2 linked regions of the Homo sapiens genome follow. The protein of the gene in region 1 interacts with the protein of each later gene in a pairwise test. Each region holds a gene or a part of one and is shown in the gene's direction. Other genes may lie near its edges.

Region 1 (4,151 bases):
AACATACTTAAAGTGTTTTATGATGCCACAAAAGGCTGGCCCACTCTTTTTTTTTTTTTGAGATGGAGTTTTGCACTGTCGCCCAGGCTGAAGTGCAGTGATGTAATCATTGCAATCATGGCTCACTGCAACCTTGACTTCTTGAGCTCAAGCGATCCTCCTGCCTCAGCCTCCTGAGTAGCTGGGACTACAGGTGTTTGCCACCATGCCTGGCTAACTTAAAAATTTCTTTATTTTGTAGAGATGGGGGTCTTGCCATGTTGCCAGGCTGGTCTTGAACTCCTGGCCTCAAGCAATCTCCCTTTTTGGCCTTCCAAAGTGTTAGATTACAGGCGTAAGCCACCGCGCCTGGCCCCCACCTTTATTTTTATTTTTATTTATTATTTATTTTTTTTTTTTTTGAGACTGAGTCTTGCTCTGCCTTCGAGGCTGGAGTGCAGTGGCACGATCTCGGCTCATTGCAATCTCTGCCTCTGCGGTTCAAGCGATTCTCCTGCCTCAGCCTCCCGAGTAGCTGGGATTACAGGCGAACGCCACTACATCCGGTTAATTTTTGTATTTTTAGTAGAGACGGAGTTTCACTATGTTGGCCAGGTTGGTCTCGAACTCCTGACCTCAAGTGATCTGCCCGCCTCGGCCTCCTAAAGTGCTGGATTACAGGCGTGAGCCACCGCGCCCGGCCCCACTCTTAATAAATGCCTGTCTCCAGGTGCTGGGTGGGAGGTGGGATGGAATGGAATGAGGTGAGGACGCATGGATGCATGGATGAATGGATGGGAAGTTGAGACGACGCGCCCACACGAGGGAATTTCCTTTGAAAGAGAGCGAAATTCTGAGTTGGGAAACTCTTCCTTGAAACGCCTCCCCATACCCCAGCTGTGGCCTTCCCGTTTTCTGCGTGGTGGTGTGGGGGGAACTTCCTCAGGCCTCTCCGCAGTGGAGCCTCTTTCGGTTCTGCCAGGATACCTAGAGGCAGCGGAGAGCGGGGCAGGGAGGGGAAAACCGTGAGGGTCCCTGTGGCAGGCCCCAGCACCCATGGGATCTCTCTCCGGTCGCAGGAAGCAGGCTAGCTCCTAGCCCGCCTCGGCTTGGCCTTTGTGGGACCTGGGGGCAAAGAAGAAGAGCTGTCTCTGGGACCATGCCTCCTCCCGTACACAGCAAGATGCGTCCCTAAACTCCCGGGGGAATTAGACTTGTGGGAATGTTCTGGGGAAACTCCTGCGCGGTGAATTGCTGGGGGCTCCGCCCCCCCGATAGGTGGACCGCGATTGGTCTTTGAAGACCCCGCCCCTTTCCTGGGCGGGGCCAAGGCTGGGGCAGGGGAGTCAGCAGAGGCCTCGCTCGGGCGCCCAGTGGTCCTGCCGCCTGGTCTCACCTCGCTATGGTTCGTCTGCCTCTGCAGTGCGTCCTCTGGGGCTGCTTGCTGACCGCTGTGAGTTGTTTTTGCCCCGACCAGACGGGAGTTGGGAGTGGGGAATGAGAAGGAAAGGGAAGGAAGACTTCGGGGAAGAGGCCTTCCTGGCTGATTTTTGTGGGGGCAGGAGGGTGGGTGGGAGCTGGGCAAGGTGCCCCCGCTCCTGGCTGAATGGGGTGGGCTGCCTCTCTCTTCTCCCGGGCTGGGGTCCCGGGAGCGGCCTACAGGGGCCGCTCAGGGAAGGCACTGGCTGCCCAAGCGTGCCTAGACGGCCTGGACGGGTTTAGGGAGCCTCAGAGGCTGGCCACACAGAGACTGGTAGGGGGTTCAGAGGGCGGGAAGTGAGGCGGACCAAGGGAAGGGGCGGGTCTGGCCCGTTTCCTGTCCCCTTCTTATTGTGGACAGATGCCAGCCTCTGTAAGTAGTTATCATCTCCTTGCCAGCTGGGGCTGCCTTCTTCCAGGGCATCTTGTGGGAACAAGAGATGGGTGCAGAGGCCCAGGTACTTTTGTGAGAAGGCAAGGAGCTTTTAACATCGCCTTCCACCCCGAACCGTATCTTGGGTGTTCCAACCTAGGAGGAATCCCCAGGGCTTTGCCTTTTTCTCCTGAATTTAAGATGACATAGGAGACCCCTGGGGAGATGAACAGTTTATGGGACACAATAAAGGGTTAGGAGACCAGAGTTCTGGTTGGCTCTGACAGGGCTGGTGATCAGAGGGCTGGAGAAACCAGGGGTTTCTCCAGGCACCAGAGGGGCTCAGAGCCAACCAAGCATATCTCCGGGATTTTCAGAAGCCTACACTTGACTCACTTTTTGTTTAAATGTATTTTTGTAGTTCCTCATTCTGGAGGCTGGGAATCCCCCAAGTACCTGGCTCCTTCATCCCAGCCCCTCTGGCCTCCCCCTACTTTAGAGGGCTGTAGATTCCTGCCTGAAGCCTGGGCAGGAATGACCCATGGTATCAAGGAAAGCAAGGGAAGCAGCAAGGGAAGAGAGGGAGTGGGGAGGCTGCTTTGGTCCCACAGCTTTCACTTTCACCTGAAGCAATGGCTCTTAGGGAACAGGGAGGCAGGGGGAGGGCGGAGCTGGAAAGAGGTAAAGGGGGGCCCTTGTGGTAGGAGTGGAGAAAGAGCCAGAGGAGGTGGGGTGAAGGGTGTGATCCAGGCTTCTCAAGAGCAGAGTTTGCCCTCATAACTCCCAACTTTGGCTCCAGGTAGAGGCTGGGCTGTGACAACAATGTCAGAAGCTATCTATTGAGGGCTTCTTGTGTGTCAGGCTCTGAGCCAAACACTGCCTGTTTTCTTTGTCTGATTTCTCACAACTCCCCCATTATACAGATGGGCAAATTGAGGCTCAGAAAGGGGGATTGTCTTGCCAAAGGTCTCATAGCTAGCTAATGGAAGAACCTGGTTGTGAATCTACATCTGCATGATTCCCGAGCCTGCCTCTCAGATAGTGAGAGTCTCCAAGCTCTGGTCCTGAGCTGTTTTGTGGCAGAAGGACCAGAACTATGGGGAGTGAGAACTGGAGATTGACAGACTTTTAGGGGAGCGTTTTATTTCTCATGTGTTTGAAGATGGTATCAAGGACTTTCCTATCTTTGGGAGTGTGGGAGCTCCACGTTCACAGGATGGTGTCTTGCAATGAGCTGGTGGGGGGCAGTAGCCTTTTCTACTTCCTTTCCCATTTTGGGTAAGACACATTTCTGTAAGTAATTTGCTGAGATACCCAGGTTGAATGAGAGCCACCAGTTAGGTAGGATTCTGGACAGCCAGCCAGGTAGCCGGGCTGCTTGCCATATATCATGCAAGCAGAAACAAATGAATGATGATTAAAATTGCCATTTAATGAGCACCTACTATGTTCCTGACACTGTGCTAGGCCATATACATGTATTCTTTCTTATCTTCGTAATCCAACCTGCAGGGCAGGCATTATTACTCCCATTTTAGAGATAGAGAAACTGAGGCTAAGAGAAGCAAAATAACTAGTAAGTGTTACAAAGTCAGGACTGGAGTCTAAAGCTGTCTGACTCTCAAACTTGTGTTCTTTTCACTGGCTGTTCCCAAACTGTGGGACAGTTTTAAGGAGCACATGGACATAGAATTAAACATACACTTACTTTACAGTTCTTTTAAAAATCCTTCTCATTTTTTCAAAGAGGAAGTCTCTGGAGCTAGAATAGAGTTAATGCCTCTCAAAGGCTTGCTAATCCTTCTTTTAAAACAAAAATCAAGAGCAGGCCTGGGAGGGCCTTCAACAAGCAAACAACCAGCTGGGTTTTAATAACCTTGTTTTGTTTCCCCAGAATTTATTTTTAGGGTTACCTTTTATTTATGAGAAGTGATACTGGTTCTTGTCTCTTGGCAATGATGTGAGGTTTACATTTAAAGTAAATGTACCGGCCAGGCACGGTGGCTTGTGCCTGTAATCCCAGCACTTTGGGAGGCCAAGGCAGTCAGATCACTTGAGGTCAGGAGTTTTAGATCAGCCTGGCCAACATGGTGAAACCCTGTCTCTACTAAAAATACATAAATTAGCCGGGCATAGTGGTACACACCTGTAATCCCAGCTACTCAGGAGGCTGAGGCTGGAGAATTGCTTGAACCCAGGAGATAGAGGTTGCAGTGGGCTGAGATGATGCCACTGCACTCCAGCCTGGGCGATGGAGCGAGACTCTGTCTCAAAAAATAAAATAAAAGTATTGAAATTAACAATAAGTAATTAATAGCAT
Region 2 (3,013 bases), on another chromosome or scaffold:
TGTTTATTTCATAGGGAAATCAGAGCTCTAAACCTTTTCTTTGAACTTTAAGTATAATGACAGCATAACAATAAGAAAAGCTTTTCCAGAAGCATACCCATATGAACTGTAGGTTTCTTTTTAAATCAAGCCTTAACAAGGAAGGACCTTGAGGGAGTTGCCCACAATAGTCCTGAGATTCTGAGAAATAAGCAAGCTGGGTGTTTAGGATACTTGCTTGGTAGGGGTGGGGAAATGGTGAAAAAGAGTGTTAAAGGAAGTGGGAAATGGCTTCGTTGCAATTTCTTTTTTGGATTTCTCTATACGTGCAGCATGGTCAGTTTGGTGATACGTGTTCTCCCAAACCTCCCCCGCCTTCCCCAGTAGCTGGTTATAGAGCCAAGATGTGGCCTTTGGGACATAGATAATGCCCTTTTAATGACACTTGAAATTAATTCCTTTAGTGTAATCCTCTAGCAAAGAGATGAGAAAACTGAATTTGTAAAGCTTAATTTTACCCAGAGATTTTGGTGTAGAAAAGGGCCATACATTTGTGAATAGATGCTTAAGTAGGTGATGAAAATAAAATATCATTTGAGCAAACTGTCCTATACCAGAAAGTCTCAGGCACCAAAATAGCTTGGCAGGTTGTAAGATAATGTTCACTTCAAGGCTTTATCCTCAACAAATTAAAACTAGAACAGTTGACATAATAGAAAGGGATACTGTGTCCTTGGTACTCTTGTTTCTGAACTGCATTATTATAAAATGTGTCTGTCAGTAAATCATAGAGAGAATGTGGTACCCTGTTAAATAGCTGTCAACTCTTCTATTTTCAAGTTCCTGTACGATTCTCAAGTAATTCTAAACCTGTTGGAGAAGTAATATTGGTTTCCTTTTTTGCAAAAGTGTGTTCCTTTAGTGATACTTGTGTTCTGAGGCTTCCAGTTACATTTTTAGCAAAGAAAGCATTTCTTAAATAATGGGTAAAGCCTTATAATTGGGAATGTATGTAGACTGTTCTTTTTGTTTTGTTTTGTTTTTTGTTTTGGAGGGGTTACAGTTGGTAGGATCTATTGATTAATGTCTTTTGTGTATCTGGTATTGGGTAAATACTGGAGACAGTTTTAATCCCACCTAGCTTCATACATTGTACTAAGAGACTGAATGTACTTGAGTAGAAGCAATTAATTCCCTTCTCAACAGAGGCATCTCTTATTTAGAAAAATGAACAGATGATATTATTTGGTTACAACTTTTAAGATGACTTCTTAACACTGATCTCAGAAAGTGGATTTCGATAACAACATACAGTTGTCTCTCACACTGGCTGCACTATCCATTGGACTGTGGTGGACTTTTGATAGATCTAGAAGTGGTTTTGGCCTTGGAGTAGGAATTGCCTTCTTGGCAACTGTGGTCACTCAACTGCTAGTATATAATGGTGTTTACCAGTAAGTATTAATCCTTCAATTTTTGGTGCTTGTTTGCTAGATAAATAAATGATAACCGCTTTCAGAATTGAGATTATGAAATGAGGTTAGCCAGTTTAATCTACAGAGTAGTTTATTTTCATTGTAATTATCTTAAGTGTCATTGCAGTTCCTCTGTGGGTATTAAAGACATGTCTGTTATTCTAGATATACATCTCCAGATTTCCTCTATGTTCGTTCTTGGTTACCATGTATATTTTTTGCTGGAGGCATAACAATGGGAAACATTGGTCGACAACTGGCAATGGTAAGCTGATGCTCACTTTTCTGAATAAGATGTGGAACAAATGACAAGTTTTCTCTAAAAGGCAGTCCTTTAAGGGAAAGCAATTTGTGAAGACAACATTCTTTGATTGCTTTTTTGCACTTCCATTGAAATAAATCATTTGGAAGAATTTAATCACAGGTGTTTTAAAAGTTGAGGAGCCACTGGAGAGAAAAACTCAAAATGTGTTATGGATAGGGCAATATGATTTATTGACCATATGGGGGATATTAGTGGTTTTTAAAAAACTAATCTACAGGTCTCCCACTATATCAGAAAAGGACAGTTTTAAAAGTTAAAAAGGTCACTACTAATAAGTGTGTTGCTACAATAGGTATACATTAGGACCACCTCTAACAAATCAAGATGTTTGATCATTTTAGTGATGAAGGAAAAGGAAAAGGCTAGGGAGTGACATTCAGAGGCCACAGCAGTTTTATGAATCAGTGCTGTCACTTTTACCTTTTTAGCCAGGTTAGGAGAATTGAGTGACTTACTTTGCTGTATTTTTGGTAAAATAGCCAACCAATTATCTTACCCTGTTGGTTTCCTTTATTTTGAATTGTGGGTGTACATTTTTATAGCTGTACTTTAAAAATGTTGTTTTGACTGGAAGCTTTTGTTAATGTAACAGATTTTTTCCTTTATATCATATAGCAATTTGAAAATACAGTGATCTGAGTTCACCACAACAGCCCTATCCTTAAGTTCATGAACTATTCTTTGCTAATTTGCCTTATTGAATACTCAAAGAAACCTGCTTTGCTTCCTTTCGACATTAAAAGATTGATCTAAATTCTAAATCATATACTGCCACTACTTGCTTGTAATGCAGAAATCTCATCTTTCTCTTGCTTTTGGCTGTGGCTTTTTCACTTCCAGAATGTGAATTATTTTTTTCCCTGTCACATTTGTCATTTAATCATAGTAATTATGTAACTCTTGGATTATTTGAGGAATAAATGGGCACATAGTAATAAAATGTTCATTTTTAGAGCTTTTCAGTTTATTTGGAAGTTGCTATTCAAAAGAAGTCTTAATCTGTTAACCTTTTAACCTTTTAATTTTTGCAGTACGAATGTAAAGTTATCGCAGAAAAATCTCATCAGGAATGAAGAAGGCAAAAAATATCTTTTGTACAGAAAAGCAAGATGAAAAGGATGTGAAATGGTAGATATACCAACAAAACTTCAGACTGTAAAATTGCCAGGATGCAGTTTTCCCCTTGATTGGCGTGTGTGTATATATGGATAAATATATATATACACACACACAT

Evidence for each region.
Region 2: the proteins of CD40 (region 1) and INSIG2 interact in binary tests that used the Homo sapiens proteins (3 or more experiments, as listed by UniProt).

What each region holds. Positions count from the first base shown.
Region 1 is NC_000020.11:46,116,963-46,121,113, forward strand, and holds the start of CD40 (tumor necrosis factor receptor superfamily member 5 isoform 1 precursor), read left to right. Parts: upstream 1-1,351; 5' UTR 1,352-1,381; coding exon 1,382-1,432; intron 1,433-4,151.
Region 2 is NC_000002.12:118,105,471-118,108,483, forward strand, and holds part of INSIG2 (insulin-induced gene 2 protein), read left to right. Parts: intron 1-1,266; coding exon 1,267-1,433; intron 1,434-1,619; coding exon 1,620-1,719; intron 1,720-2,810; coding exon 2,811-2,852; coding exon of another isoform or gene 2,853-2,892; 3' UTR 2,893-3,013. UniProt on the Homo sapiens protein: Oxysterol-binding protein that mediates feedback control of cholesterol synthesis by controlling both endoplasmic reticulum to Golgi transport of SCAP and degradation of HMGCR.